Regions from separate parts of the Homo sapiens genome. Here region 2 is linked to region 1. A link means that fine-mapping ties the variant in region 1 to the expression of a gene that starts in the linked region. Tissue or cell type: pancreas. Region 1 holds a variant in brackets; the other region holds the start of a gene. All regions are shown on one strand. Distances are from middle to middle.

Region 1 (8,100 bases):
CCCAGGGCCCCCAGCCAGCTAGCACCCTGCCCTGGGAGTACCCCTACCTTCGCGGGCCGCCTCCTAGGGCTTTCCCCTTGCACGCCTTGGGGAGGGGAGGCAGCGCCTGGCGGCAGGCCTGGGAGGGTGTAACAGTGCTGCCTTCTCTTACAGGGAAGCAGGATGGATGAACAACGCTGCTCCTTCCCGCCGCCCCTCAAAGTAGGTGGGCCTGGCAGTCTGCCTCCCTCTCTAGGGGGTGGAGGGGGTCCGGGAAGTGCTGCCACCACTGCCCATCAAGCAGGAAATCCATCCCCTTTCAGCAAGTAGTCTTACAGTGTGCCAGGTGCGGGGGTAGGGGGGGAGGCACAGCTTCTAGCAGGGTAGACCCAGCCCCTGCCCTCTAGGAGTTCTGTGATGGGGAGAACCCCTCTCTTGCTAGAGGGCTGGGGCCTCTATTCTAGCTCCTCCTCTCGGTCTTCACTGCTGCAGACTCCCCCTGCCTCTCCAGGCGTCCCCACCCCAAACTCAAAGCCCTCCTCTCTCAAAGACAGCTGCTGCCAAATGTTTTCCCTGAAACCAGTGATGACCAGCAGTTGCAGGAAGACTCCAACTCAGGCCCTAGGAGACTTATGAGCTCCTGCTCCATAAGCTGCTGTCTGGATGGGGAGGGAGTGATAGGGAGGCAGGCCTGGGTGCCCCCCAGCCACTGGTGAGGAGACTGACCGGAGGCAGGGGACTCAGCGAGATGAGGGGGAGGCTCTTGTTTTTGACCCACTTTTCTTAGCATATGGTTCTTGGTGAGAGATCCCAGAGACCCTAGAAGACCAGGCCTGGTGGAGTGGGCCCAGGGCTACAGGGTGAGGGTTAGAGGAGGGTGCATGGGCAGTAAGCCTGATGCTCTCTTTGGGGCAGAGGCCCTCACACCAGCAGCGTCGGTGCCACCTGGGAGCCTGTGAGGAATGTACATTCTCAGACCCCGCCCAGACCGCTGCATCCAAAGCTCTAGGGTGGGGTGCAGCAAGCCCTCCAGGCAGTCCAGCGGTTTCTTCTGGGGAGGCAGTGAGCCCTCCTTTCTCCAGGCAAGGAGAGCCCCAGAAGATGCCAGCACTCAGCACGCTAAGCCTGCCTCAGCCCCTGCCCATCTGTAAGAGGTGATGAGGCCAGGGCCCCATCCGCACTCTCAGCCCTGAGGCTGGCCAAGCAGAGGCCAGCTCTGGGGGCACTGGAGGATGGACAGATGGAGAGACCCTTGCCCTGTTTGTGTTTTGCAGACAGAGGAGGACTACATTCCATACCCGAGCGTGCACGAGGTACTCAGCTAGAACCCCGCGCCCACCCTTACTCAAGCCCAGGAGGCACTTACACAGGGCTTCTGGATACCAGGTCCTCCTCCTTAGGAGCCTGACCTGCAGGCCTTGCTGCGGGCTGGAGACTTAATTTGCAGGCCCAAGGCCTCAGAGCCCATTTGAACCCTTAGGCCTTCTGAGCCAAATGTTCCAGCCTCCTGGGCCAAGGTCATGCTCCAGCTCTACCTGCCCCCACACCCCCTGTTAGAGACTTGGGTCTCGGCGCTGTCTGGGTCTGGCTGAGGGAAAGGGCTGGAGCAGAACCCTGGGGCCCACACAGGCTCTGGCCTGTCCCCTCATACCCCTTAGCCACGACAGAAGCGGCTCCAGGTCTGAGTTGGGAGGGTGTCCTGGGGCGCCCAGTGGGGTACAGTGTGGGGTGGCTCTCAGCTGAGTCCCTCTTCAGGTCTTGGGGCGAGAAGGACCCTTCCCCCTCATCCTGCTGCCCCAGTTTGGGGGCTACTGGATTGAGGGCACCAACCACGAAATCACCAGCATCCCCGAGACAGAGCCACTGCAGTCGCCCACAACCAAGGTGAAGCTCGAGTGCAACCCCACAGCCCGCATCTACCGGAAGCACTTTCTCGGCAAGGTGGGTGGCCGGCTGGTGCAGCGGGGCTGGCTGGGGTGGGTCACAGTTCAGCCCCATTCGAGGTGGGCCTGGGAGGGAGCAGAACCCATGGGCCAGGGCTGGGTGACAGTCCTAGAGCCCTGAGTGAATGTGCTCCCACCACACACACTCCCAGTCCCCAGGGAACATGCATGGCAGAATCACTTGTTCATTCAACATTGATTGCAAAGGCAGCATTATGGCATGGTGGTTCATGGCAGAGACTCTACCAGGGCTTGAATCCTGGCTCTGCCACCCACTACACAGGACATCGGGTAAATCGCTTAACTTCTCTGTGCCTCATTTCCTAATCTGTGAAAATGGTGGTTGGTGGTAATGATACCCACCTCCTGAGGTTGCTGTGAGGCTTTAGTGAGCTGATATCTGTAAGGTCTTTACAGTGGTGTCTGGGACAAAGTAAGTGCTCAGTCAGGGGTGGCAAATAATGAGCACTAGCTGTGTGCCTGGCCCTGTTCTAGGCACCAGGTATACAGCAGCCAACACAATAGACCCAGGCCCTCCCTTTGGGCAGCTTGGAGTTAGGAGAACAGTAATGTCATGGGTTGATGCAGCCCCTGCCCCACCACCAGCACAGAGCAGGGACCCTGCCCAGCAACAACTTGTCAGAGTGTTGTGGGAGCCAAGGGGAGGTCCCATGCCGGGAATGTGTGTGTCAGGTTGCAGGCCGGGTGCTGTCTCTTCGTCAGCATAGAGCCAAAATGGGGAAGTGTGTCGTGGGCTCTGGAGCCTCGTGGCATGTGTGGGAATCTTGGCTCTTCCATTAACTGTTTGTGTGACCTTGGGCAAGTTATTTAACTTTCCTCGTCGGTGAAAACAGGGATAATAAAAGTACACGCAAAGCTTCTAGAACCACACCTGGCACATGGTAAATACTCAGTTAATGTTAGCTGTTTTCATGTCTTCATAATTACTTGGTGATATCAGGATTATTCTGTTTTTGCAGAAGAGGAAACCGAAGCTCAGATAGGTAAATGATTTAGTCAAGGTCACACAATGACTAAGCCTGGGAATTGAACCAGCTTTGGCTGACCTTCCATTAAGGTGCATGGGAGAGATCATGCTCCTAGTCATTGTATGTGTGTGTGTGTGTGTGTGTGTGTGTGTGTGTGTGTGTGTGTGTGTGTGTGTGTTGGGAAGAGGGGGTGACTCCTTGGGGGTTCGGAAGATGTGTGACCTCAGTCTGGGCCTGGCCATTGGCCTAACTCTGGGAGACACCGGTGCTAACCAATGGAGTTAGGGGAGGATCCACTGTGACTGGGACTAAACCAGCAAGCCCAGGTTCAGGAGCCTTTGCCTGGGAACAAACCCAGAACCCAGCATGGAATTCCACTTCCCAGCTGAGCCCTAGAGGTGGAGCGAGACCTGCATCCTAGGCACCTG[C/G]TGTCCAGAGGTTCCCAGCTGGGTCTGGCAGGTGGTAGGATCTGAGGGTACTGTATATGCCAAACACATGGTTGGTACTCAGAAAAGTTTGTTGAAAGAGTGACAAGTGACAGATGAAGGTAGGAACAGATGAAGGTAGTGGACCTCGAGTGCAGCAGGCTCTGAAGAAGTGCAGACTGGAGGGTCAGAAGAGGCAGCTGGGCGCCCTGGCTTATACCTGTAATCCCAGCACTTTGGGAGGCCGAGGTGGGCAGATCACTTGAGGTCAGAAGTTCAAGACCAGCCTGAGCAACATGGCAGAACCCCATCTCTAACAAAAATACAAAAATTAGCCAGGTGTGGTGCTGGGCGCCTGTAATCCCAGCTACTCAGGAGGCTGAGGCAGGAGAATCGCTTGAACCTGGGAGGTGGAGATTGCAGTGAGCTGAGATGGTGCCACTGTACTCCAGCCTGGGCGACAGAGCAAGACTCCATCTCAAAAAAAAAAGAAGAGGCTTCATGTCCAGGATCAGATTAGCAGTAATGAGGGAGAAGCCCCAGGGCTGGCAGAATGGCAGGGCCCCTTCCTGACTCCAGGTGGGGTAATGGGGGAAGCAGCCAGGTGCTCAGGCACTGGGCCCTATCCTGGCAGAGAGGGGAGGTTAGGATGACTTTGGGCGTTGACTTCCTGGGACCCTGAGCCCGCTCTCCCACTGTGTCCCGGGGGCTCCTCTGGGCTTGGGGGTGTCCAAGGAACCTCCCCACTCTCTGGACTTCCCTGCCAGGGGCCTCCTTATCAAGTGCCTGCCACTCCCTCTCTGCTGGATGATGTCAAGCATTTGGGGGTTTCTGCCACTCTGTGCCCAGGCAGAGCTGGGGGACTCTGCCCCAGGTCCATTGAGAATGCCCCTGAGCTGCGGATTCGTGGGGCACATTCACTGGTCCCTGCCTCTATCTGCTCCTGGCCTCTGAGCACAGGTGTTCATGTTTGAACAGGATTTACTTCTAGGATGATTCCTGGGGCGGGTGTGGCCGGGCAGCCAGCTCCACTCCCAGAACTTGGGCTAGGGCTGGGGCTGAGGTTGGCAGGAGGAGCCCGGGGCCAGGCTGGGTGGTGTCTCCCTGAACTTCCAGCCCTCGGCTTTGGGACTTCCCCACCCGGAGGTGCCAGCCCTGGGCTCCTCTCTGGGGGTGCCATCCCTGCCGCAGCCACCCCTGATACTCCCCAGGGTGTCTTCCCAACCCTGTGCCCTCTCCTCCAGGTGAGACAGGAGGGTGGAAACCTGCCTGGCCAGCCACCCTGTGTGTTGTGAGATGTTTCGCTTCCTGTTTCTCATGGGCCCTGGCTTCAGGGGCCACAGAGTCACAGGTTGGGCAATCAGCTTTTGCTCATTGAGCACCTGCTGGGTGCCCAGCCCTGAGAAGGACCAGGGCTGAAGACAGGCATGCAGGTCCGAATATGGTCCAGACTCGATGAGCACCCAGAGATCCAGCGTTACTACCCACCTTCACTGAACTGAGCCAAGCACTTCATCCCTTTCAGTCCTGGCTGCCACCAAAGTACAGGGTTCCCTCCTATTTGGCAGACTAGGAAAGTGAGGCACAGAGCGGCCAAGTGACCTCCTCAGGCTGCCCAGCTGGTCAGTGGCAGAGTGGGGCTTTGAGTGCAGGTCTGTCTGATGTGGGGTCTGCTATCAGCCGTGACACCTGCTATCGGCGAAGGACCTGCATCTGGGAGTGGGTTGGCTTTCTGGCCTTGTTTCCAAAAGCCCCATGCTCAGCCTCACCCACTCCCCTGGCCCCCACCTCCCACTGCAGGAGCATTTCAATTACTACTCACTGGACGCTGCCCTCGGCCACCTTGTCTTCTCACTCAAGTACGATGTCATCGGGGACCAAGAGCACCTGCGGCTGCTGCTCAGGTGAGGGTGGTGGGGGAGTCCTGAGATGGCAGGAAGGGCTGAGGTCTTACAATCTCAGAGCCCATCTCATTTGACCCACTCTCTTCATCAAGGCCCATAGAGGGGCAGGGATTTGCTTGAGGTTGCACAGCAAGTTAGTACCCGAGTCAGCCTGACACCCATCATCACCTCTGGTCCTCGCTGTGGTCCACCCCCTTCTGGCCTTACTTTGTGGGGGGTGGGGTTCCCATTTTCCTGTCCTGCTGCCCAGGCCTTCATCGTGTGACTTTCTCTTCTCAGGACCAAGTGCCGGACATACCATGATGTCATCCCCATCTCCTGCCTCACCGAGTTCCCTAATGTTGTCCAGATGGCAAAGGTGAGGTCTCCGCTCCGCTGAGCTTCCCGGGCTGGCTCCGCAGATGGGCACCTGTGGGGCTTCAGCTTGCCTTGGCGCGTCCCCTTCAGCTGTAGGCCCTAGCCCTGGCCTGCCGCCCTATCCTGAGGCTGTCTCTCACTTGTTCCCATCGTGTCTTGGGCTGCCACGTGTTCTCCTAGGCCCCCGTCCCCTGCCTGTGTGCTTTTGGTTTTCTCTATAGCACCTTCAGATCTCAGGGGACCTCCGTTCCCTGAGCAACAGTGAACCCCGAGTCCTGCTTTAGCCTTGGCCATTCCCAGCATGGCTCCTCCCCAGACCTTGACCAGGGAGGCCCAGGCAGCCCCATCCTCTCCTCCCTGGCCCCACACCTCACACCCCTCCCTTATCTCCTCCTGCAGTTGGTGTGTGAAGACGTCAATGTGGATCGGTTCTATCCTGTGCTCTACCCCAAGGTATGGCTGGATCTGGGCACAGCTCACTGAGGGTGGGTGAGTAACTGGAAGACTGAGCATTTATTAAGCACCTTCTGTGTGCCAGATACTTTCCCAAGGTTCTCTCATTTAATCCTCACAATAACCCTGTGAAGTCCACAATTTGCAGAAGAGGAGCCACCGAAAGGGCCTGTGCCTTCCCCCAGGGTGCACAGCAGATAGGAGGGCCTGCGTTTAAGCCTCGGTTTGTCTGCCTTAGAGGCTGGCCTCACATCTGGAACCTCTGTGATGTTTGGGGACCCTCCTGAGAGCAAGCTGTGCCATAGTCCTCCCCTGGAATGGGTGTCTTTTCTACCGGCCTTGCCTTTTTATCCCAGAGGAGACCTATAGAGAGAGAATAGCCCTGGCACTTCCTGCTCGGATGCTGGTAGCTGGGCTCTAGGCACTGTGACAGTGTGGGGATAGGGGCACGGGCTTCTGCCTTGGATGAGCCAGGGGCACCTCCTGGAAGAGGACAGACAGGTAAACCCTTGGGTCCCTGACTGAATTCTGGAGCAGTGTGAGGTGGTGTGGTCCAGGAAAGGTATCCTGAAGGGGCTTCAGAAATCAGGGCCCCCCTCCTGCTTATGGGAGAGGAAACTGAGGCCTAAGGTGAGGAGGAGAACTTGCTCAATGCCCACAGCAAATTGGTGGGACGTGTCCTGTTCTGGGAGGATGATGTGGGTTTACAGAGGAGCCGAGGAGTGAGTTGGGAGTTAGAGTGGAGTAGGGGTGGGCTTGGCATGGCAGGACTGGGGCTCACAGCAAAACTCAGGAGCGATGAACTTAAGCTTTGGAATCCAACAGACCTGGGGTCAAATCCCAAGCCTGCATGTGCTTGCAAGCCATTGACCCTAGGTGAGTCACTTAAGGTCTCTGAACCTGAGTTTCAGAGGGGACAGCTGGACTGTCTCCCTCCCAGGCTTGTTCTGAGAATCACATGACGTGACGTGTGTAGAGCGCCTGGCTCAGTGCTTGGCACGGGGGAAGAGCACGTCGAATGGCAGCTTGCACACGCAGCCTCTTCACCCGGCGTCCTCTCCTGCAGGCTTCCCGGCTCATCGTCACCTTTGACGAGCATGTCATCAGCAATAACTTCAAGTTTGGCGTCATTTATCAGAAGCTTGGGCAGGTGTGCTCACCTCCTCCCTGCCGCCCCTCCCCACCTGGCCCCATATCTGGAGCCTCACACCTTTTCCAGGGCAGCACACCGGCCAAGGGACTCAGGAGCCCAGGGGCTGCCAGAGGTCCTCCCTCCGGCCCTCTCTGGGTCCAAGTAGGGACAGAGGGCAGGGGCTTCTCAGGAACTCCAGCTCAATGACCTTGGCCCCTCATCCCCAGACCTCCGAGGAAGAACTCTTCAGCACCAATGAGGAAAGTCCCGCTTTCGTGGAGTTCCTTGAATTTCTTGGCCAGAAGGTCAAACTGCAGGACTTTAAGGGGTGAGTATTAGGGTGGGCTGAGCAGAGTGTAATCTGACTTGTGCTCCTGGGCAGGGAGGGAGCCCCTGTCCTGGCCCCATGGAGGCCTGGCCAGGGCTGGAGACTGAGGCGTGGCCTGGGGGGCCCCGGGGCAGGTTCCGAGGAGGCCTGGACGTGACCCACGGGCAGACGGGGACCGAATCTGTGTACTGCAACTTCCGCAACAAGGAGATCATGTTTCACGTGTCCACCAAGCTGCCATACACGGAAGGGGACGCCCAGCAGGTAGCCTGGGCACCCCCACCTGCCTCCTGTCTTCCACCTGTCCTCCCCCTCCACCTGTCTGTTCAGCCTCCATCACGCCAGGCTCAGCGCTGGGCCCTGGGATGGAGATGGAAATGATCAGCGCCCCCACTTGTGGGGTCTCGTTGGGTCAGGGGAGACAGAAAGCCTTGGTTTCTACAGTCAGAATGGCACCCACTTCCTAGGTGAGCATAAATGCGTGGGTGCATAGAGGGACTAGAACAGTGCCTAGTACATTGCAAGAGTTCAGCAGATCTGAGCTGGTGTTTTATGGGGAGTGGAGAGCATCATGGGGTCATGTGGGGACA
Region 2 (8,083 bases), 54 kb before region 1:
GGAGGCTCCAAGTCATGCTAGACTGTGGAGTTCTGGAACTAGAGTATACTGTTTATTTCCTGTACTGGAAGCCAGAGTTAGGGCCAGGCTGGATTTTATGTCTGCACCTAAAACCATTCAGTCCCCCACAAATGAATCAACCTAATTAGTGCTAGACTGTTGTAGCTCCCTGAGAGCAGGGCTCTGGCCATCTTACCACTGTATTCCCACAGCGGCCCGCATGATACATCCTCAGTAAGGAAAAATGAATGACTACTTTGGAATCTGTTAGAAGTTTTCCCGTGGCCCCTTGGGGGAGAGCTCTTTTTACTACTTTGGTTTGACCAGTACTGTCCCTACCTTCAGGCTTTTCTTCTTTGTCCTCAAAACAGGGACTTCCTAACTATTCATGATCCAAAGTCCTCTAACCCCAGGGGTAGTCTCTGTCATGTCTGCTGCACCAGGTTGGCAGCCTCCCACCCAGACGGGGGCCGCTGGCCCTTCCCTGATGCGTGTGCCCTGGCGCCGACTGCCACTCTTCATCCTGCCTTGCTGTGGTTAGAGTGGAACTGTCCTCTGCTCCAAGCCGCCCCTGAAGCCCACCCTCCTTGCCGGCCTTTCCTAGACCTTACCTGTGGCTCTGTGGACAGCACACCTTGAGGACTTGCTGCTTTGGGGTTTTCTTCCCCTACTTGCTCTGGTGGGCAGTTCCTATCTCAGTTTTTCTCCCATTTGATCTGACTGGGAAGGAGTGGGCGGGCAGAGATGGGGAGTTATTTCCAAGAGGCATCATTCCCATTTTAGGACTGTTCCCCCCTCCCTCACCTGCAGTCTCATGCATTATTTGGAGTTTACCGTGGTGCCACCCATGTTTTCGTTCTCCAGCCTTTTTGGATGCCAGATTTTTAAAGCCAGCTTTCATTTCTCAGTGATAGGGAGCACAGAGATGGTGGCTGGGTCGCAATGTATTAAGTGTCTGAGACAAGGCTTGTGCCCAGAGGCAGCCATGCGTGAGTGGTCAGTCCTGAGTGGTTTGGATTGAAATAGGACAGGGAAAGCAAAGCTCCGGGGCCTTTGTCCAATCTTCCCCCTCAGTAGCTAGGCTGCATGCCAAGCTCTGTGCCCAGCCCCCTACGGCACGTGCTGCCTCCTCGCCAGGGGCCCTGACAGTCTCAGAATGGTGCCCCCCAGGACACATGGGAGATTATAAGCCTCTTGCATTGAGGGAGGTTTTCTGTAAAGGGGAAAATGCTGTAATTGAAAAGCTCCTTGATTATAAAGAAGAAATAGAGACGCCTGGCATAGAAGAGACTTCGTTCTTTGGTCTGCTCAGCCAGGGTCGGGGACATTCAGTACCCCCAGGCTAATAGGCTCTTGAGCTCTTAAGGACCTTGGAGTCTGCAGGTCCAGACTCCAGAAGGTTATGGGACCATGAAGAGGTCACACAGCTGTACCCCTTGGCTTGCTGCATTTCTGCATCTCCAGTGCCTCCATCTGCCCCCTCCCTCCAGCTCAGGTGGGACACCTTTGTCTCCACTCAGCACTCTGGGATGTACCATCAGCAATGCCTGGCCAGAATTGAGGGTCTCTGTCTTAAAGCGTGGAGGAGAAAGGGGCCCTTTTGGAACAGGAGTTAGGGAAGCAAGAAGCATGAAGATTGTGCTCAGAATTGAATTCAGGGAGCAATGCATAAAAAAGCGAGAGGATGGGTAGAGAGATGGTGCTTAAAAGGATCCTGGAATCCATGTACTTCTGAGATCTGTGAGCCCCGCCCCTGCTGAAGATGAGCCAGCCCCACCCAGTACATGCTGCCCTTGAAGGTCTATAGGCATTCTGCTGGCATTTCCTAAGTAGGATGTATTTGACCAAGCATCTCCCAGGACCAGAGCCCTGCAGGACATACCTGTCTAGGGCAGTTGCTATGCCCCACAGTCCCTTCACCATCATCCCCAGAAGCGCCTCGGCCAGCCTCATTCAACTTCTTGCCTTTTTATTACAGTGTTTGAGCCAACTATATAGTCCTGGTGTATTCCTAGGCAGGAGATCAAAGGGCCCCCCGGGTTGGGTGGTCCATGAGTGAGCATGTGATACCGCAGGAGTCTTCCTCCTGCCCTGACAACTTGCCTTGTACTACCAGTGCTGCTCAGGATGTCTGCAGCCACGAAGCTTCATTATAAATGCAGGAGCTCAGGCTCCAGGCCCACTGAATCTGAATCTGAGTCTACAGACCGCTCCTGCACTCTTAGAAGTTTGAGAAACCCCCCTGGGCTGGGGTCTCTTTCCCATATACAGCTAGGGAAGCTTGCTGGAGGGAGGACTGAAAAGAACAAGTGCCTGATCTACCTTCCCCTCTGCCCTTTCACAGGTGGGTGGATGCGTGGGAAGAGGGTGGGGCATTTCCTGCTATTCCCCCTTATTCACCTTTTCTCCACGGGGATTAGAGTCTTGACCGGAAAACATGGCTCTGGTCCCCAGCCCCTATGGGACTGAAAACCCGGAGGCTTGCATGTCTCAGATCCTCCAGAGGCTGATGTAAGAGTTGCTGAAGACCTCGGATCTTTCCTTTTGTGAAATGCAGCCCATGTGGCCGGGAAAATAGTGGGAGCTGGAAGTAACAGTTGTGGTTTTAAGCACACAGTAGATGCTCAAGAAATATATTGAGTACATGTCTTGGACTTTCCCCTCCCTAAATATTATCTGTCAAGTGGGCCTATTGGACTTGTTGACCTTGGAGGGCCCTGTCGGCTTGACCCACCAATTCGAAATGGTTGAGAAAGAGGTCTGTCTTTGTACCTTTTGCAGCCTGTTTTCCCAGTTCTTAGAACATTGGGGTGAGATCCAGAGATTTCAGAGATCCCCCTGGAACACGAGTGTTCTGTGACGAGTTCATGACCTTGGAGCCACCAACCATACCCCTCACCCGTTGTCCCCAGTTCTGGCCTTGCCGACCCACTGCGTGTTTCTTTGCTTCATGTGGGCTGTTCCCCGGGGAGGGAGCTCAGTGGAGAACAGAAAGAGGTGTGGGTGAGGGCTCCCCCTTGGTGGGGAGTGGGGCACAGGAGCCTCAGGCTCTGTTGACCATCAAAGAAGGGACTCGAGTGGGCAGGCCGCTCACTTGCTGTGGACCTTGGGCAAGTCTCTAACTCTCCCTGGGCCTTGGAAGTCAGGCCGAGGTGATCTCTGCCGCCCCCTCCCTGCCTGGGTTTTCACTCTTGTTCTGATCCCACTCTCTTCCGGGTGCCTCCCTTCCACTTCTCCGTAGCCTGTGGCTCCCCTCCCCACACCCGCCCTGGGCCCGGGTTAGGCTGGGGCGGGGGCGAGCTGCCCAGTCCAGAGACAAAGTCCAAGAGCCGCGAATGGGCTGGCGAGGGTCAACCGCGTGGCCTCTGCCAGGAAGCGCGCCGAGCGCCCGGGTGAGGAGGGCGTCAGCCAGGGCACAGCAGCTTTCTCGCCCAGCGAAGCCTGTGCGCCTTCCTCCCGCGCCTGCAGACAAGCGGAGCCCATGGGGGCCGTGGGCCCCACCTATCCCGACGTCTCCACTTGATCCAGAAGTTGTCCCAGTCCCCTTGGAGCATGAGCTGTTGCCTGGACAGCTGGGCTGTCGCCCAGGTTCTGCCACTGTCTAGCTGTGTAACCTTGAGCCAGTCCCTGCCCCTCTCTGGTCCTCAGTTTCCCCACCTGTAAAATGGGGGCACCGAGAACCCTCCTCCAGGACCTGCGGCGGGGCGGGGCGGCAGGGCGGGGGCCTCCCCGCCGCTCCCGCGCCCGCGGCTTGGGCTCCGCAGTGAGTGGGGAGCGGCGCCGGGGAAGGAGCGCTCCGCGGTCATGTGACGTCCCCCTCCCCGAACTGCGGCGGCGGCGAGCGCCGGCCGCATCTGAGCAGAGCTGCAGCGGCGGCCGCGGGCACCAGAGTGCCGAGCCCAGGACGCCCCCGGCCCAGGCCCTTGGGTGAGTGCGCCCCGCCAGGGCTGCGGCCCTGGAAAGGGGAAGGGGACAGAGGTGTCCAGACTCCCGTCGGCTCGCAGCGAAGACCCCGCGCGGGCGGGCGGGGACGGAGGGTGGGGGCGAACGCGTGGGGGACCCGGGTCTCCAGGGGCGAGGGGTGGGCGCAGCTGGGCTCGCGCAGCCCGGTCTTGACAGCAGCTGGAGAAGTGGGGGGAGGCCTGGACTGAGCCGGCTGAACCCCCAGCCTGTTGGACTTGGTCCAGGCCGCGGCCAGGGGGCTTTGGTCCCACCCCCCTGGGTGGGTGGGGAGTCCAGTTTTCCGCCCACCTCGAGGTGGGGGCGCCTGGGGTTTAGAGGAGGGACTGTGGGAAGTGGGCGCGTTTCCTCCATCCCTGGGGAGGGGCCCAAGCCCTAGCGCCCCCCAGAGGGTGGCGCTCCTGTCCTCAGAGGAGGGAAGTGGGGGCCTCAGATCAAGGACCCTGAGCGGGGAGGGCGGTGATGTCCTTGCATCCCCAGAGACAGGACGCATTCCCCTGTCCCTGACCCCCGCGGCAGAGCGGGGCACACGCGTCACGAAGTTGGGCGCCCCCTCGTCGCCTCCCCTGGCTCGGCAGGATCTGAGGACTCGGTGGGAATTCACGGGGCGGTTTCCGTGCCCTGCAGGGTTTGGTGCCAGCTGCGGGGCGCCTGGGCTTGGGGAAGAAACCTTGTGTACGCACACCTGCACACACACACAGTCTCCGGAGGTGAGCGGCCCCCTCCCTACCATAACAGACCCCAGCCTGTGCATGCCCTCGGAGTCCTTGTTGGGGTCATAGCACAGGCCCGGTGGTGGGGTCAGGAAGAACATCCACTGTTCTCAGGGCTCATTGGCCTCTGTCCCCGGGCTCCATTCCCCTCCCTGCCAAGTCAGAGGTCAGGCCCCTGGGGCGGCAGGCAGGAAGGACACTGAGGGAAGGGGCACTGAGGCAGGAGGGGCACTGAGGGAAGCTGGCCAGGTGGAAGTAGGAGAGAAAGGCAATGGGGGTGAGATGGTACCACTTCCTCCCCATATGAGGCTCTCAGGAGGCTCCTGGCCCCCCCTGCACAGGTAGTGGTCCCTCCTTCCTGAGGGTGTTTGGGGGAAAACGCTATGGTTGGGGCACTGGGGAAGGTTGCCTCGCAGATGAAACAGAACATTGGCCAAAGGTGTCCCTGAATGGGCTTCTGGACTGGCACAGGGCCCTGAGGGCTGTGGCTGAGTGGGGAGGCAGTGATCAGGTCCAGCTGGCCATGGGGGCCCCCCATTCCCTTCTCCATGACCTCAGCCTCACTCTGAGAGCCCCCAGCAGCTGGAAGGTCTGGTAAGGGGTGCGTGTTCCTTGATGGCCTTGGGAAGGGTTCCAGGGTAATGATTAATCCTCAGGTGGCACGAGCAATTTCCCCCTTCACAGCAATATTTCAGGGCAGGCGCTGAAGCCTCCATTGCACAGGTGAGGAAACTGAGGCTCGGAGAGGCTAAATGAACTGCCTGAGGTCACCTAGTCACCTTCAGCAAGGTCTAGAATCGTGGTACTCTGACTCTTGATGGGAGAAGATCTCCACAGCGGTGGAGAGGAGGAAGGGTGAACGCCGTGGTGGAGTGGTCCATGTGGACCTGCTCCCCTTTGCTGCCAGGAGGTGAGGGTGCCTGTGGCTGGAAGCTGGGTCAGGTTGAGGAGAGGGTCCAGAGTCCTAGGCTTGCCTTGCCACCCCTTCCCATGGAGGGAGGGTTGTCCCGTGGAGCACCATAATGGTGCTTTCACCCTGGGACCTTCCCAGCTTGCTTGGGCAAAGCCCTCTCCTCTTCTCTTCTTCCCAAGGTGCCTGCCTGGCAGGGGTCTCAGGAGGCCCCTCTCCTGGCTCTAACTACCTTCCACCCTTAGGAGACAAGAAGGATTCTTCCTTTGGCCTCTTGGAGGGCAGCAGGGAGAGAGGTCTCTGCCACTTAGGCCTCAGGCTCCCACAGCAGGGCCTCCACCTCCCTCTCACCTGGCCCTGCCCCTGCCCTGCTGTCAAATTCTGGGGCCAAGAGGCCCTTTGAGGACTCCTCGGGCAGATCTGTCCTCCATGCTGCCATCTGTCTACGGAGGCCTTTGTCCTGGCTGTCAGAGGCTGCTGAGCAGCCGCATGTGCTGTGCAAACAACCGAGACCTGAGCACGGCCAGACACAAACGCAAATACAGTTAGACTGACAGATACCCTGAGACCCAGACACAGGAACACACGGGCACACCCAGGCCAAGACCCCTGCCCCCGACTCTGCCTGACACACAAGCACTGAGAGTCACACCATCCAGATGCTGGCACGTGTGTACACACAGAGAGACGGAGGTTGTCAGCAAGGAGAAGAGCCTTTTCAGAAGCCCTCGTCTTCTGTCGTCTGCCTCCATTATCTCCTCCAGGGTGCACACATGGTACACGCGCATGCAGGAAGAACACGAGGATGCCCTACGCCCTTAAAAATGAACCTGGCAGACACGCACATGCACCCACCCACACCCAGGCCATCATGGGTGCACACACGCATGAATTACATCAGCTTCCTGCGTGTGGGATGTTAATGCTTCATCACCCGGGGAGGGGAGTGGAGGCCCCCGACCGTCCCCAGCAAAGCCTCCCCTTCCTCCCTCTTTTCTGATTCATGTGGACCCAGCTTGACTGGCCCCAAGAATCCTGGGAAACTGCCTGGTGCTTCCCACTCAGTGGACCCTCCTCTCCTGCCTCCCCTCTGTGTACATACCCAGCGGGTTGCCACGGGAGCCTCTCCCCAGGCTGCTCCTTTGCTGTCTCTGAAGGTGTTGTTCTGCAGGTCCTTCCCAAGACAGGACAGGACCCAGTGCAGGCTCCAAGCGGCTCTGGGGTTCCCTTTCCTTTCCACTTTTGCTAGAGGCATTACCAGGCCCCAGTTTCTGCTTTGTCCTCCCAGCAAGGCTGGGGGCCAGCTGGTGTGAAGGGAAGGGAGCCCTCAGCACTCTCTGCTCACCTCCTTGCATGCCAGGACCTCTGCCAGGCTGGCCCTGGCACCCTGTGCCTCTGAGAGACTGGCGCTGTGGAGAGGTGCTTCTGTGGGCTTAGGTGAGGCCTCCAGGGCAGACATGCTAGATGGGGAGGGGCTCCCAGCTCCACCATGCTCCCTCGGCACTCACACCAAGCCTGCCAGAGTGCTGATTCCCTGTCCAAGCCTGGCCCTGCCTCTTGCTGGCTGTGTGGCCCGGACAAGTCATTTTCCCTCTCTGGGCCCAGCTCCAGCTCTGGGAGGCAGCTCAGCCTGGCTGGGGGATGAGGAAAGTCAGAGGTGTGAGGTGGCAGCCCTGTGCCAATAAGGAAAGGAAGTTGGGCTCTGGTGGCAGTGTGGGCCCATGGGGCCCCAGGCTGATGACTTCCTGCAGAGTGCAGCCTCTGGATCCACACTAGGGCCAAGCAGGGGTCGCCAGTCTCAGGGCTTCTTGGGGCGGCCACCCTGGGGTCAGCCCAGGAGGAGGGTACCCAAGGGCAGTGGGCTGCAGCTATGTTGCTCACATTTGTGGACATTTTATGCCTCAAAATGTGCTCTATATTTAGGGCTAAAGACCAGCACTGTCAGGCAGGTGGTGACTCAGAGAGGAAGAAGGGAAAAGAGGCAGAGGAGTGCTGGTGGGGAGACACCCCAAAACAGAAAGGTCCCACTGGGATTCCAGCCTTTCCTACTGCAAGAAAGGAAGCAAAACATGATACTCCTGCTTTGCACCAGCACAATGGGAGCAGCCTCGTGTGCCTACTCACTAAGCATTTAATGAGCATGTAGTGGATCCCAGGGACTGTGACAGGCACTGGGGCACAGAGATGAGCTGGGTCCTGTGGTCCCTGCCACAGCCCGGTGCTTTGTGTCAGATGAGGAGGTGAGGCTCAAAGAGAGAAAGTGACTTGCCCACTCTACAGGTTAATACCTCTGCCAACCGAGGCCACCCTCCCTCGGACCCCCATTCGGAGGAAGCAGACCCAAGTTCGAATTCTGACATTGCCACTGAGCAGCCGTACAACTTTTGGTGAGTTCCTCTCTCCCTCTGAGTCTGTTTCTTGATCTAGGAAGTGGGAATCATAGCACTTGCCTGATGAGTATGTTTCAAGGGATAAGAAGGTGAATGCAAGCAAACACTGA

The links. PIP is the estimated chance that this variant, and not a neighbour inherited with it, causes the effect.
Region 2: RAP1GAP starts here. The variant in region 1 is fine-mapped to the expression of RAP1GAP in pancreas (GTEx, PIP 0.98).

What each region holds. Positions count from the first base shown.
Region 1 is chr1:21,611,126-21,619,225 of GRCh38, reverse strand. It overlaps RAP1GAP (RAP1 GTPase activating protein), which reads left to right. Exons shown (of 25, transcript NM_002885.4): 5 at 154-201; 6 at 1,254-1,292; 7 at 1,735-1,920; 8 at 5,137-5,240; 9 at 5,520-5,598; 10 at 5,997-6,050; 11 at 7,117-7,200; 12 at 7,410-7,510; 13 at 7,645-7,774. Among named protein-coding and RNA genes, the nearest start is that of LINC02596, 29 kb to the right of the region's middle. RefSeq lists enhancers at 1-584, 7,455-8,100 and a silencer at 5,851-6,143. The variant C/G (reference allele first, on the strand shown) is at 3,340.
Region 2 is chr1:21,665,098-21,673,180 of GRCh38, reverse strand. It overlaps RAP1GAP (RAP1 GTPase activating protein), which reads left to right and starts at 3,824. Exons shown (of 25, transcript NM_002885.4): 1 at 3,824-3,927. RefSeq lists enhancers at 1,905-3,104, 6,623-7,123 and a silencer at 3,753-3,902.